Linked DNA regions of Homo sapiens. The protein of the gene in region 2 interacts with the protein of the main gene of each other region in a pairwise test. Each region holds a gene or a part of one and is shown on either strand. Other genes may lie near its edges.

Region 1 (7,028 bases), on a different chromosome or scaffold from region 2:
GCACCACAATTTCTATACCTATTCTCAATATAAATTCCTACATCTCTCCCTCAGGCCAGAGGACCCTTTGCCACCAGAGTGAGATCCTAGAGACCATCATCCTGGTAAATCCCAGTGCAGACAGCATCAGCTCTGAGGTAAGGCCAGGGCCTGTGCCTTGCCAAACAGGCCTGGTGCAAGTGCTATACCCACCCTTGCCAGTGCTACCACTATTAGGCCAAGAATTCCTCTCTCTGCCATCTAAGCTGACGTATTGTCTCCAGCCCACTCTGGAGGTGTTATGAGGGACATAAGTTGGGAGCATGTTCTTGAGGTACTGAGGGGCCATTCATTGCCTTTCCCTGGATTTCCTATATCTGTGACCACTCCCCTTCTTCCATTCCAGGTTCATCATCTTCTTAGCAGCTCATCAGCTTATAAACTACTAATCTTGAGTGGGCAAAGTTTAGAGCCTGGGGGAGACCTCATCCTACAGAGTGGCACCTACTCATATGAAAACTTTGCCCAGGTCCTTCACAACCCCGAGGTAAGTTCCATGCCAGAGTGTCTGGGAGAAAGGGTAGCACTAGAGCTGTGGGAGGGATCTAAGGGAAAGTCTCATATTGCATGACCATGGGGGGCCCTGGCAGAAAGGTAAGAGTCCACCTTGGAAAGAGGTGAAGATTAGGGTACTGAATCTAAGTCAGACCAAAACAACTCTAGTGACCTGATCAGGTTTCTATCTCCTATTCTTCTAGATTTCCCAATTGCTCAGCAATAGAGACCCTGGGATACAGGCCTTCCTTACCGTGTCCTGCTTAGGGGAAGGTGATTGGAGCCACCTGGGATTATCCAGTTCCCAAGAGACCCTGCACCTCCGGCTAAACCCTGAGCCCACTCTGCCCACCATGGACGGCGTGGCTGAGTTCTCCGAGTATGTCTCTGAGACTGTGGACGTGCCATCCCCATTTGACCTACTAGAGCCCCCCACCTCAGGGGGCTTCCTCAAGCTCTCCAAGCCTTGTTGCTACATCTTCCCAGGTGGTCGTGGGGACTCTGCCCTCTTTGCTGTCAATGGTTTCAACATCCTGGTGGATGGTGGCTCTGATCGCAAGTCCTGTTTTTGGAAGCTGGTACGGCACTTGGACCGCATTGACTCGGTGCTACTCACACACATTGGGGCAGACAACCTGCCAGGCATCAATGGACTACTGCAGCGCAAAGTGGCAGAGCTAGAGGAGGAGCAGTCCCAGGGCTCTAGCAGTTACAGCGACTGGGTGAAGAACCTTATCTCTCCTGAGCTTGGAGTTGTCTTTTTCAACGTGCCTGAGAAGCTGCGGCTTCCTGATGCCTCCCGGAAAGCCAAGCGTAGCATTGAGGAGGCCTGCCTCACTCTGCAGCACTTAAACCGCCTGGGCATCCAGGCTGAGCCTCTATATCGTGTGGTCAGCAATACCATTGAGCCACTGACCCTCTTCCACAAAATGGGTGTGGGCCGGCTGGACATGTATGTCCTCAACCCTGTCAAGGACAGCAAGGAGATGCAGTTCCTCATGCAAAAGTGGGCAGGCAATAGTAAAGCCAAGACAGGCATCGTGCTGCCCAATGGGAAGGAGGCTGAGATCTCCGTGCCCTACCTTACCTCTATCACTGCTCTGGTGGTCTGGCTACCAGCCAATCCCACTGAGAAGATTGTGCGTGTGCTTTTTCCAGGAAATGCTCCCCAAAACAAGATCTTGGAGGGCCTAGAAAAGCTTCGGCATCTGGACTTCCTGCGTTACCCTGTGGCCACGCAGAAGGACCTGGCTTCTGGGGCTGTGCCTACCAACCTCAAGCCCAGCAAAATCAAACAGCGGGCTGATAGCAAGGAGAGCCTCAAAGCCACTACCAAGACGGCCGTGAGCAAGTTGGCCAAACGGGAGGAGGTGGTAGAAGAGGGAGCCAAGGAGGCACGTTCAGAGCTGGCCAAGGAGTTAGCCAAGACAGAGAAGAAGGCAAAAGAGTCATCTGAGAAGCCCCCAGAGAAGCCTGCCAAGCCTGAGAGGGTGAAGACAGAGTCAAGTGAGGCACTGAAGGCAGAGAAGCGAAAGCTGATCAAAGACAAGGTAGGGAAAAAGCACCTTAAAGAAAAGATATCAAAGCTGGAAGAAAAAAAAGACAAGGAGAAAAAAGAGATCAAAAAGGAGAGGAAAGAGCTCAAGAAGGATGAAGGAAGGAAGGAGGAGAAGAAGGATGCCAAGAAGGAGGAGAAGAGGAAAGATACCAAACCTGAGCTCAAGAAGATTTCCAAGCCAGACCTAAAGCCCTTTACTCCTGAGGTACGTAAGACCCTCTATAAAGCCAAGGTCCCTGGAAGAGTCAAAATAGACAGGAGCCGTGCTATCCGTGGGGAGAAGGAGCTGTCTTCTGAGCCCCAGACACCCCCAGCCCAGAAGGGAACTGTACCACTCCCAACCATCAGTGGGCACAGGGAGCTGGTCCTATCCTCACCAGAGGACCTCACACAGGACTTTGAGGAGATGAAGCGTGAGGAGAGGGCTTTGCTGGCTGAACAAAGGGACACAGGACTAGGAGATAAGCCATTCCCTCTAGACACTGCAGAGGAGGGACCCCCAAGTACAGCTATCCAGGGAACACCACCCTCTGTTCCAGGGCTGGGACAAGAAGAACATGTGATGAAGGAGAAAGAGCTTGTCCCAGAGGTCCCTGAGGAACAAGGCAGCAAGGACAGAGGCCTAGACTCTGGGGCTGAAACAGAGGAAGAGAAAGATACCTGGGAGGAAAAGAAGCAGAGGGAAGCAGAGAGGCTCCCAGACAGAACAGAAGCCAGAGAGGAAAGTGAACCTGAAGTAAAGGAGGATGTGATAGAAAAGGCTGAGTTAGAAGAAATGGAGGAGGTACACCCTTCAGATGAGGAGGAAGAGGACGCGACAAAAGCTGAGGGTTTTTACCAAAAACATATGCAGGAACCCTTGAAGGTAACTCCAAGGAGCCGGGAGGCTTTTGGGGGTCGGGAATTGGGACTCCAGGGCAAGGCCCCTGAGAAGGAGACCTCGTTATTCCTAAGCAGCCTGACCACACCTGCAGGAGCCACTGAGCATGTCTCTTACATCCAGGATGAGACAATCCCTGGCTACTCAGAGACTGAGCAGACCATCTCAGATGAGGAGATCCATGATGAGCCGGAGGAGCGCCCAGCTCCACCCAGATTTCATACAAGTACATATGACCTGCCCGGGCCTGAAGGTGCTGGCCCATTCGAAGCCAGCCAACCTGCCGATAGTGCTGTTCCTGCTACCTCTGGCAAAGTCTATGGAACGCCAGAGACTGAACTCACCTACCCCACTAACATAGTGGCTGCCCCTTTGGCTGAAGAGGAACATGTGTCCTCGGCCACTTCAATCACTGAGTGTGACAAACTTTCTTCCTTTGCCACATCAGTGGCTGAGGACCAATCTGTGGCCTCACTTACAGCTCCCCAGACAGAGGAGACAGGCAAGAGCTCCCTGCTGCTTGACACAGTCACAAGCATCCCTTCCTCCCGTACTGAAGCTACGCAGGGCTTGGACTATGTGCCATCAGCTGGTACCATCTCACCCACCTCCTCACTGGAAGAAGACAAGGGCTTCAAATCACCACCCTGTGAGGACTTCTCTGTGACTGGGGAGTCAGAGAAGAGAGGAGAGATCATAGGGAAAGGCTTGTCTGGAGAGAGAGCTGTGGAAGAGGAAGAGGAGGAGACAGCAAACGTAGAGATGTCTGAGAAACTTTGCAGTCAATATGGAACTCCAGTGTTTAGTGCCCCTGGGCATGCCCTACATCCAGGAGAACCAGCCCTTGGAGAAGCAGAGGAGCGGTGCCTTAGCCCAGATGACAGCACAGTGAAGATGGCTTCTCCTCCACCATCTGGCCCACCCAGTGCCACCCACACACCCTTTCATCAGTCCCCAGTGGAAGAAAAGTCTGAGCCCCAAGACTTTCAGGAGGCAGACTCCTGGGGAGACACTAAGCGCACACCAGGTGTGGGCAAAGAAGATGCTGCTGAGGAGACAGTCAAGCCAGGGCCTGAAGAGGGCACACTAGAGAAGGAAGAGAAAGTTCCTCCTCCCAGGAGCCCCCAGGCCCAGGAAGCACCTGTCAACATTGATGAGGGGCTTACAGGCTGTACCATTCAACTGTTGCCAGCACAGGATAAAGCAATAGTCTTTGAGATTATGGAGGCAGGAGAGCCCACAGGCCCAATTCTGGGAGCAGAAGCCCTTCCCGGAGGTTTGAGGACTTTACCCCAAGAACCTGGCAAACCTCAGAAAGATGAGGTGCTCAGATATCCTGACCGAAGCCTCTCTCCTGAAGATGCAGAATCCCTCTCTGTCCTCAGCGTGCCCTCCCCAGACACTGCCAACCAAGAGCCTACCCCCAAGTCTCCCTGTGGCCTGACAGAACAGTACCTACACAAAGACCGTTGGCCAGAGGTATCTCCAGAAGACACCCAGTCACTTTCTCTGTCAGAAGAGAGTCCCAGCAAGGAGACCTCCCTGGATGTCTCTTCTAAGCAGCTCTCTCCAGAAAGCCTTGGCACCCTCCAGTTTGGGGAACTAAACCTTGGGAAGGAAGAAATGGGGCATCTGATGCAGGCCGAGGATACCTCTCACCACACAGCTCCCATGTCTGTTCCAGAGCCCCATGCAGCCACAGCGTCACCTCCCACAGATGGGACAACTCGATACTCTGCACAGACAGACATCACAGATGACAGCCTTGACAGGAAGTCACCTGCCAGCTCATTCTCTCACTCTACACCTTCAGGAAATGGGAAGTACTTACCTGGGGCGATCACAAGCCCTGATGAACACATTCTGACACCTGATAGCTCCTTCTCCAAGAGTCCTGAGTCTTTGCCAGGCCCTGCCTTGGAGGACATTGCCATAAAGTGGGAAGATAAAGTTCCAGGGTTGAAAGACAGAACCTCAGAACAGAAGAAGGAACCTGAGCCAAAGGATGAAGTTTTACAGCAGAAAGACAAAACTCTGGAGCACAAGGAGGTGGTAGAGCCGAAGGATACAGCCATCTATCAGAAAGATGAGGCTCTGCATGTAAAGAATGAGGCTGTGAAACAGCAGGATAAGGCTTTAGAACAAAAGGGCAGAGACTTAGAGCAAAAAGACACAGCCCTAGAACAGAAGGACAAGGCCCTGGAACCAAAAGACAAAGACTTAGAAGAAAAAGACAAGGCCCTGGAACAGAAGGATAAGATTCCAGAAGAGAAAGACAAAGCCTTAGAACAAAAGGATACAGCCCTGGAACAGAAGGACAAGGCCCTGGAACCAAAAGATAAAGACTTGGAACAAAAGGACAGGGTCCTAGAACAGAAGGAGAAGATCCCAGAAGAGAAAGACAAAGCCTTAGATCAAAAAGTCAGAAGTGTTGAACATAAGGCTCCGGAGGACACGGTCGCTGAAATGAAGGACAGAGACCTAGAACAGACAGACAAAGCCCCTGAACAGAAACACCAGGCCCAGGAACAAAAGGATAAAGTCTCAGAAAAGAAGGATCAGGCCTTAGAACAAAAATACTGGGCTTTGGGACAGAAGGATGAAGCCCTGGAACAAAACATTCAGGCTCTGGAAGAGAACCACCAAACTCAGGAGCAGGAGAGCCTAGTGCAGGAGGATAAAACCAGGAAACCAAAGATGCTAGAGGAAAAATCCCCAGAAAAGGTCAAGGCCATGGAAGAGAAGTTAGAAGCTCTTCTGGAGAAGACCAAAGCTCTGGGCCTGGAAGAGAGCCTAGTGCAGGAGGGCAGGGCCAGAGAGCAGGAAGAAAAGTACTGGAGGGGGCAGGATGTGGTCCAGGAGTGGCAAGAAACATCTCCTACCAGAGAGGAGCCGGCTGGAGAACAGAAAGAGCTTGCCCCGGCATGGGAGGACACATCTCCTGAGCAGGACAATAGGTATTGGAGGGGCAGAGAGGATGTGGCCTTGGAACAGGACACATACTGGAGGGAGCTAAGCTGTGAGCGGAAGGTCTGGTTCCCTCACGAGCTGGATGGCCAGGGGGCCCGCCCACACTACACTGAGGAACGGGAAAGCACTTTCCTAGATGAGGGCCCAGATGATGAGCAAGAAGTACCCCTGCGGGAACACGCAACCCGGAGCCCCTGGGCCTCAGACTTCAAGGATTTCCAGGAATCCTCACCACAGAAGGGGCTAGAGGTGGAGCGCTGGCTTGCTGAATCACCAGTTGGGTTGCCACCAGAGGAAGAGGACAAACTGACCCGCTCTCCCTTTGAGATCATCTCCCCTCCAGCTTCCCCACCTGAGATGGTTGGACAAAGGGTTCCTTCAGCCCCAGGACAAGAGAGTCCTATCCCAGACCCTAAGCTCATGCCACACATGAAGAATGAACCCACTACTCCCTCATGGCTGGCTGACATCCCACCCTGGGTGCCCAAGGACAGACCCCTCCCCCCTGCACCCCTCTCCCCAGCTCCTGGTCCCCCCACACCTGCCCCGGAATCCCATACTCCTGCACCCTTCTCTTGGGGCACAGCCGAGTATGACAGTGTGGTGGCTGCAGTGCAGGAGGGGGCAGCTGAGTTGGAAGGTGGGCCATACTCCCCCCTGGGGAAGGACTACCGCAAGGCTGAAGGGGAAAGGGAAGAAGAAGGTAGGGCTGAGGCTCCTGACAAAAGCTCACACAGCTCAAAGGTACCAGAGGCCAGCAAAAGCCATGCCACCACGGAGCCTGAGCAGACTGAGCCGGAGCAGAGAGAGCCCACACCCTATCCTGATGAGAGAAGCTTTCAGTATGCAGACATCTATGAGCAGATGATGCTTACTGGGCTTGGCCCTGCATGCCCCACTAGAGAGCCTCCACTTGGAGCAGCTGGGGATTGGCCCCCATGCCTCTCAACCAAGGAGGCAGCTGCCGGCCGAAACACATCTGCAGAGAAGGAGCTTTCATCTCCTATCTCACCCAAGAGCCTCCAGTCTGACACTCCAACCTTCAGCTATGCAGCCCTGGCAGGACCCACTGTACCCCCAAGGCCA
Region 2 (7,844 bases):
TTATTGTTAAACTGCATTTGTAATCATTTTCCTTATCTCATCAAAGAAATGTAAATCCCTCAGTTATTTTTATTGTAGCCAATACAGAAGTCTGTATGATGTCATTTGAATGAGATCATGTGTAGTATACTCAGTGAGTTGTAAAGTGCTCATAAAAATTAAGTAGCCCGGGCATGGTGGCTCACGCCTGTAATCCCAGCACTTTGGGAGGATGAGGTGGGCAGATCACGAGGTCAGGAGATAAAGACCATCCTGGCTAACACGGTGAAACCCTGTCTCCACTAAAAATACAAAAAAGTTAGCCAGGCGTGATGGCGGGTGCCTGTAGTCTCAGCTACTCGGGAGGCTGAGGCAGGAGAATGGCGTGAACCCAGGAGGCAGAGCTTGCAGTAAGCAGAGACTGCGTCACTGCACCCCAGCCTGGGCGACAGAGCAAGACTCCGTCTGAAAAAAGAAAAAAATTAAGTACTATTTTTGTGCCGAAAAATAAGATTGTGTATATAATACAATTACAATTAACTCCTGAATTTAAATTAGACCATTTAATCAAACCAATGAATTCCCATTTCATAGATGAAATATATTTATTTAAAAAAATCTACTTTGCTTTAAATTATTCCCAAAATTATTTAGCATGCAATACTTTTAACATTTCTTAAGCCAGCACATAGCAGCACGCTTTACAAGAACTTATATATACATCATCTCAATCAGTTACGGGCATAAATTGAGAAAAGAGTAAGAATATTAGAATATTATTTTGTTTGTGCTTGGAAGGAAGAATAAAGCATTAGTGCAGTTATGTAGATGAACTCAAAAGTTTTAGTCAAACAGCTTATGGAAAGAACTGCTGTGTAATTAGTATTTCCAAGAATTTGCAACAATGAAACACCACTAAAAATAGGCACCTACAAAATAAACACCAGCAAGACCTCAAACAGTTGCATAACAGAAAAATGTTTTTAAGATAAACAATATGTTTGCCTTATCAAATACATAATCTAAATACTGCAAAGGGGATAGAATGCACTTTTAGAATGAATTCGGAATCCAAAATGCATTTATTTCCATAATGTACATGCTTAGTGCTCGCTGAATTAAATGGTAGTCAAAATTTCCGCTTCTGCAGAAAGTGAAATTCTGCATAATAAATATCATCTAAATATGCTTTATAGACCCTTTTAGGAGAGGTCTGAGTTCAATTTTGATATCAATTCCTCGTTGATATGTTTAAATTGATGATAATCACTAAAGAAACACCAGAGCTGCCATCATAGGTTAGAAAACACATTACACAATACTGAGTGACCTAGAGGGAAAAGAACTTCTCAAGGTCACTCCAGCAGCCCACAGGAAGACCTGGGATAAAAGCCTCTTGGTGCGATGACCAATGTCTTCCTAGGTCACCCGAAACCTAGGACACACCCCGACAATTTCTGTTCCAAAGAAAGATCAAGGTGACTCATTGCATGATCTCTCTAGCACCCAGCAGCCAGGGGTGGTTTCATTAACAGCACATGGACAGTTGGAAAACTGAGGACCAATTTCCTGTGCCAAGGTGAAAGGCACCTAAGCATTGAGCATTACCAGCGATCCGGAGATCCCGAGCACAGACAATTCGCACTAGAACCACGCAGGAGAAAGCAAGCACTAAGAAAACAAACACGAAGTGAAGGCGCACCCAGACCCGGAGCTGAGTGCTGGCCTTCGTTAATTCCTATTTAACCAGATACAGCTGTCTTTCCCTAACTAAGCGAATCCAAGAAGCGGTCCTAAAGTGAGAGTAAACTTTCTGCTCAGTGTCTTTCTTTTGACCGGAGCTTGACGATCTCTCCCAAGATCCAGACAGATAAGAGTATTCAAATTAGGACAAAACAGAAGAAACCACTAAATCTCAACTCGAATCAAACCAGGTCCCCGGCCCCGAGGGGTCTGGTTACTCTAGGTCGAGTTATACGAATTAAAGACATTTCTCCACGCACCAAAGATACAACCAGACATATTTCCAGCTCTTAAATTCAACGTCCCTGACTTAAGCCAGGTCCCCACCGAACTGTCCACACACATGCACAAACTAACTTCCCGGGGCGGTGCGGAGACGCCGGGACGCGAAGACGTCAAGAGCCCAGGCTAGAGGGAGAGGGACTGAGCCCGAGCACCGGCCGAGGCCGGGAAGAGACGCGCGCGGGCTTGACCCGCAGCTCCCGCACGTGTGGGCCACGGCCGGCTCCAGGACCCCCGCGCCGCGCGCTCGGCCTCCTCCCCATCCTGGTCTCCCGCCTCCTTCTCATACCTGTCTGAGGATGAAGCTGGTCGAAGTGGTGCTGCCATCGGATCTTTTCAACCTGCTCCTCCGGGTTGTGGTGCCTCGGGCCACCTGGACTCGACACACGGGGGCCAGAGAGAAGCCGGTGAGGACCGCAGCGCAGAGCGGGGCGACCACCCCCGGCTGGAGTCCGCCTCCGGACCCGCTCCCTGGGGTCCCCTAGAGCCCGCACCCAAGTCTCCTCCGCGACTCCCAAATACAGCCCCCACCCCCACCCACCCACTGCAAGCCTCGACTGCTGAAAAGATGCTCGAGAAGAGCAGCCCGCAAGCACCCACCACATCCATTAACAAAGACTCTCAGGGTGCGGGGTCCGAGTCCCCGGCATCCGCTGGGGGAGGCTGCGGGCTCCGGAGCGGGAGCGCAGAGACCCGAAGGAGGGTGAGGAGGAGGAGGAAGAGAAGGAGGAGAAAGAGGAGGAGCGGGAGGAGAAAGGGACGTGGAGGAGGGGTGGGGGGAGCGGGGCCGCCGACTCCCGGGACTGGGGCCCCGCACGCCCGGCACGAAGGCGGGGCGCGCTAGGGCGGCGGAGGAGGTGTGAGGAAGGAAGAGGAGGAAGAGGAGAAGGGGGAGGAGGGGGCGGTACCTGCGAGGTGGGGGAGTGCGGCCCGTCCGCGGTCCCGTTCTTGGCGTAGGAGGAGGAGGACATCGTTCAGAGCCGCCGCATGGCCAGCCCGTGTGCGGTGGGCGGAGGGGGCTGGCCCCCGAGGCTGGGCTGCGGACGGAGGGGGAGGGCGCAGGACTTCCCCACCCGGCTCCAGGACCCGCGCCGGCGCCCAGGCTCCCTGCCCGCACTTCGGAGAGCGCGGCACCTTAAAGGGACCGAGGCGCTTCCCCCGCGCTCGCGGCGGGGTCCCGGGGAGGGGGCTTCTCGGAAACTCGCCTACCCGAGCGGATTGGGAGAAGCGCTCTCCCACCTAGCAAGCGCTTTACATCAGAGCTTCCAGAGGATGAAGGGAGGGGGAAATCTGGGATGGGGGTGGCAAGATTAAAATAGTCTGCACAGTTTAAAATGAGACAAAGGTGGCACGGTTCATGAATCAGGACTTGGGGACGGAAGCTGGTGCAGTGTGGCGGGAATGGGAAGAACCGAGCGGGTGTGTGTGTGTGTGTTTGCTGCACTGGAATTTTAAAAGGGCAAGAGCAGAGCCACCTTCCGCGACTTCACTCATCAGCCTAATGTGTAAGGCATGGGGTTTTGTGGCTTGCTTTTCGTCCGTGTTTTTGTATTGCTTTGGCAATTCTGTCCTTAGAGCTGCGAGTCACACACATCCAGGCAGCTGTGAGAAACCCAGCCAGCCTGAGTCTGACGGGAGATGCTGCCCCGCCAAAGACCAGTATGTCCTACGGAGTTTTGAAGGTCATGTTAGACCTGCTAAGAAGCAAGAGTTGGTCACTGTGCCTCCCATTTCTATGCGAATGGATATTTTCAAGGGGGAGAAACTCATCCTTGCAACCATACACAACGTTTGCCATTGGTTTCCTCCTGTAAATACATACAAGAGATTAATTTGTGATCAAATTAAAAGAGAGGGATTGCGGAAAGGAAGAATAAGTGCGAGGTATTGACAGAGGAATAAGAAGAGGGAAGAAAAGTATATGCAAATTCAAAAATAAAGAGACTCCGTTTAAATTAAAATATACTTACTATCTCAAATCGCTAAATCAGCTTGCATTCTAGGACTTTATGTTTATGGACACAACTACCATGCTTGTTTTAATAATTGCTTGGCTTTATTGAGGTCCTGGTTATATCTTACCATCCACCAGACACTTCCTTTCCATTCCTAATCCCTTCACTTAATCCAAACCTCTGTAACAATCTTATAACTAATGTCCTTGCCTCCAGGCTTCCTGGTGCATGTGCACGTATGCACATGCACACATACACACGCAGAGATTTCATTCCATCTACACACTACAGGCAAAACCATTTTCCTAAAATATCTTGCCCAAGTCACTCTTCTCTAAGATAAAGTCCAAACTCCATGGTCCAACAACTCAGCCTCTCCTGCATTTCTGATCACTCTCCATCTCATTTCTCCATCTTGATCTCTCTATACAAACCTTCCAGCAAGCAGGCAGGTCTAGTCATCAATACCCAAGTATTCCAAATACAATCACATTTGAGCTCTTCTGCTTTGGAATGCCTCCTTGGAATATGCCCTCCCAACAACCTACACACCCGGCTGAATCCTACCTTTCTTCTAAATGGGACTCAGCTCACGCTTCCTCCACAGAAATCCTATCTGACTACTCCAGTCCCACATAATTCTTGTGCTTCTGAAAAACTGGAGCATGTATTCTCTGGGCACTTAGAATAGGCTGCCTTAGCTTATTAGTTTGTTAGTTCTGTTTTTGTGAAAATCTCCTAATTTTCAGAATTTTTAGCGGTTTATCTTCTATTCCTATACCTTCCATATAGTAGATACTCCATGAATTTATGGGGAATGGAGGTCTAACCATGCAGGACTCCCTACTTTAGTTACTGTCAACCCAATCCGTATTTAGTTCTGAGCCATTTTCATAGTTGATACGTGTGTGCATATTAAATTACTATGTGAGCACTGGACTTTGAATTGTGTGGTTTTCCACTGTCCACATTCTCACTGACTTTAAGTTATTGAAACAGAACCCACAGAGGCATAACAACATGAGAAGCCCTGTACACCCAGCTCAAAGCAAAACTGGTGAAAATTATATGTTTTATATATAAGCAACCATTTAAATTTCTAAAAATGGTCCTAAAGGTGCACAACAAATGAAGGAACATTTATTCAAGAAAACCTACTGAAACCCAGTAAGAAAAGTGAGCTTGAGGTATTTGAACCAAGACCTACTCACTCTTTTCATGCTTCCAACTCAGAGAGGGCTCCACGCTATACTGGTGCAGCCAAGAACACAGGGCTCCCTCACCCTTCAGCTCCCAGTTGGAGGGTCAGCTTCCTAGGAGGGACAAAACATCAGCATTTGTCATCCTCCCCGCAGCTACCTGTTGTTGAGACTAAGTTCTAAGCAAGTATGGCAGAGGTGGGGGCTCCCTTCTTCTGCCCAGTTGTACCTGGAGGCTGTACCTTGGCCACAGCAGCACTGAGTGTACTTGGGCCTTGATCACCTTTGCTTCTGGCTCATCGAGAAAGAAGTCAGGAAACGTGGGACTGCTTTGAGTGCTTCTGCCAGAAACATTCAGCATCTAACATGGTGATGTCACTCAGAGAGAGGTGCATCATTGTCCCTACCTCTGACACCAGAGTGGAAAAAATGATGTTGAACCCTGACCTTACATCAAGGATCCCCAACCCCCAGGCCACAGACTAGTACCAGTCTGTGGCCTGTTAGGAACTGGGCCACACAGCAGGGAGTGAGCGGTGGGGCAAGTGAGCATTATGGCCTGAGCTCCGCCTCTTGTCAGATCAGGGGTGGCATTACATTCTCATAGGAGTGCAAACTCTATTGTGAACTGCACATGCACGGGATCTAGGTTGTGGGCTTCTTATGAGAATCTAATGCCTGATTATCTGTCACTATCTCCCCTCACCCCCAGATGAGACCATCTAGTTACAGGAAAACAAGCTCAAGTCTCCCACTGATTCTACATTATGGTGAGTATGTAATAATAATAGAAATAAAGTGCACAATAAATGTAATGTGCTTGAATCATCCCCAAACCATCCTCCATCCCCGTCCCATAGAAAATTGATCTTCCATGAAACCAATCCCTAGTGCCAAAAAGGCTGGGGATTGCTGCCTTATATCATATACAAAAATTAACTCAAAATTAATCAAAGACTTAAAAGAGTTAAAAATATAAAACTATTAGAAGATAAGGGTAAATCTTCATGACCTTAGATTTGGCAATAAATTCTTAGACATGACACCAAAAGCATGAGTAGGAAAAGAAAAAAATGTTAGACAGGCATGGTGGTGCGTGTCTGTGGTCCCAGCTAACCAAGAAGCTGAGGTGGGAGGATTGCTTAAGCCCAGGAGGTCGAGGCTGCAGTGAGCTGTGACACGTCACTGTACTCCAGCCTGGGCACCACAGTGAGACTCCATCTCCGGCTCAAGCAATACCTCAGTCTTCTGAGTAGCTGAGACCACAGGTGGGCACTACCATGCCTAGCTAATTTTTTATTTTTTATAGAATTGTAGTCTCCTTGTGTTGTCCAGGCTGGTCTTGAACTCCTGGACTCAAGCCATCCTCCCACCTTGGCCACCCAAAGTGCTGGGATTACAGGTGTGAGCCACTGCACCCTGCCTAATTGTATACTTTGAGTGGGTGAATTGTATGGTATGTGAATTATATGTCAATAAAGTTATTATTTTTTTAATCTTCAGATCTTACAGAAAAATTAACTCAAAATGGATTACAGACCTAAGTGTAAATGCAAAACTACGAAACCTCTAGGGGAAAACAGAAGACAAAATCTCCATGAGTCTGAGTTTGGTGTTGAGATTTTACACCACCACCAAAAGCATGATGCAAGAAAATAAAAATTGATATTCTGGGTTTAATTAAAATTAAAAATTTCTGCTCTGTGAAAAACTCTGTTAAGATAATAAGAAGACAAAGAACTTGTAAACAAAATATACAAATAACTCTTAAAACTCAACTATAATAGGCCAGGCTCGGTGGCTCACGCTTGTAATCCCAGCACTTTGGGAGGCCGAGGCGGGTGGATCACAAGGTCAGGAGATTGAAACCATCCTGGCTAACATGGTGAAACCCTGTCTCTACTGAAAATACAAAAAATTAGCCGGGCATGGTGGCAGGCGCCTGTGGTCCCAGCTACTCGGGAGGCTGAGGCAGGAGAATGGCATGAAGCTGGAAGGCAAAGCTTGCAGTGAGCCAAGATCACGTCACTGCACTGCTGCCTGGGTGACAGAGCGAGACTCCGTCTCAAAAAAAAAAAAAAAAAAAATTCAACTATAATAAACAATTCAAATAAAAAATGGACAAAAGTAGCAGGGGGTTGTGGCTCATGCCTGTAACCCCAGCACTTTGGGAGGCTGAGGAGAGAATTGCCCAAGAAGCCGGGAGATGAAGACCATTCTGAGCAACAAAGCAGGACTACATCTCTACAAAAAAAAAAAAAAATTAGCCATGCGCAGTGGGTGGCATGCGCCTGTAATCCTAGCTATTTGAGAGGCTGAGGTGGGAGGATCCCTTGAGCCCAGGAGTTTGAGGCTGCTGGGAGCCATCATCTCACTACTCTACTCCAGCCTGAGACACAGGAGACCCATCTCTAAAATTTGAAAAAAAAAATGTATTTAAATGAACAAAATATTTTAATGGATACTTTACCAAAGAAGACACATAGATAGCAAATAGGCACATGACAAGATGTTCAACATCATTTACTTTAGGGGAAATGCAGATTAAAACAACAATGCAATGCCACTATACACCTATAAGGATGACTAAACATAAAAATGATAATAGCAATGGCTAGTAAGGATAAGGAGCAATAAGAACTCTCATTCATTGCTGATGGTAATGCTAAATGGTACAGCCACTTAG

The links.
Region 1: the proteins of CACNB4 (region 2) and MAP1A interact in a two-hybrid assay, tested with the Homo sapiens proteins (one study listed by IntAct).

Annotation. Positions count from the first base shown.
Region 1 is NC_000015.10:43,520,587-43,527,614, forward strand, and holds part of MAP1A (microtubule-associated protein 1A), read left to right. Parts: intron 1-54; coding exon of another isoform or gene 55-137; intron 138-385; coding exon of another isoform or gene 386-526; intron 527-737; coding exon of another isoform or gene 738-887; coding exon 888-7,028. UniProt on the Homo sapiens protein: Structural protein involved in the filamentous cross-bridging between microtubules and other skeletal elements.
Region 2 is NC_000002.12:152,096,037-152,103,880, forward strand, and holds the start of CACNB4 (voltage-dependent L-type calcium channel subunit beta-4), read right to left. Parts: upstream 3,009-7,844; 5' UTR 2,976-3,008; coding exon 2,913-2,975; intron 2,728-2,912; exon of another isoform or gene 2,614-2,727; coding exon of another isoform or gene 2,605-2,613; intron 2,378-2,604; coding exon 2,294-2,377; intron 1-2,293. UniProt on the Homo sapiens protein: The beta subunit of voltage-dependent calcium channels contributes to the function of the calcium channel by increasing peak calcium current, shifting the voltage dependencies of activation and inactivation, modulating G protein inhibition and controlling the alpha-1 subunit membrane targeting.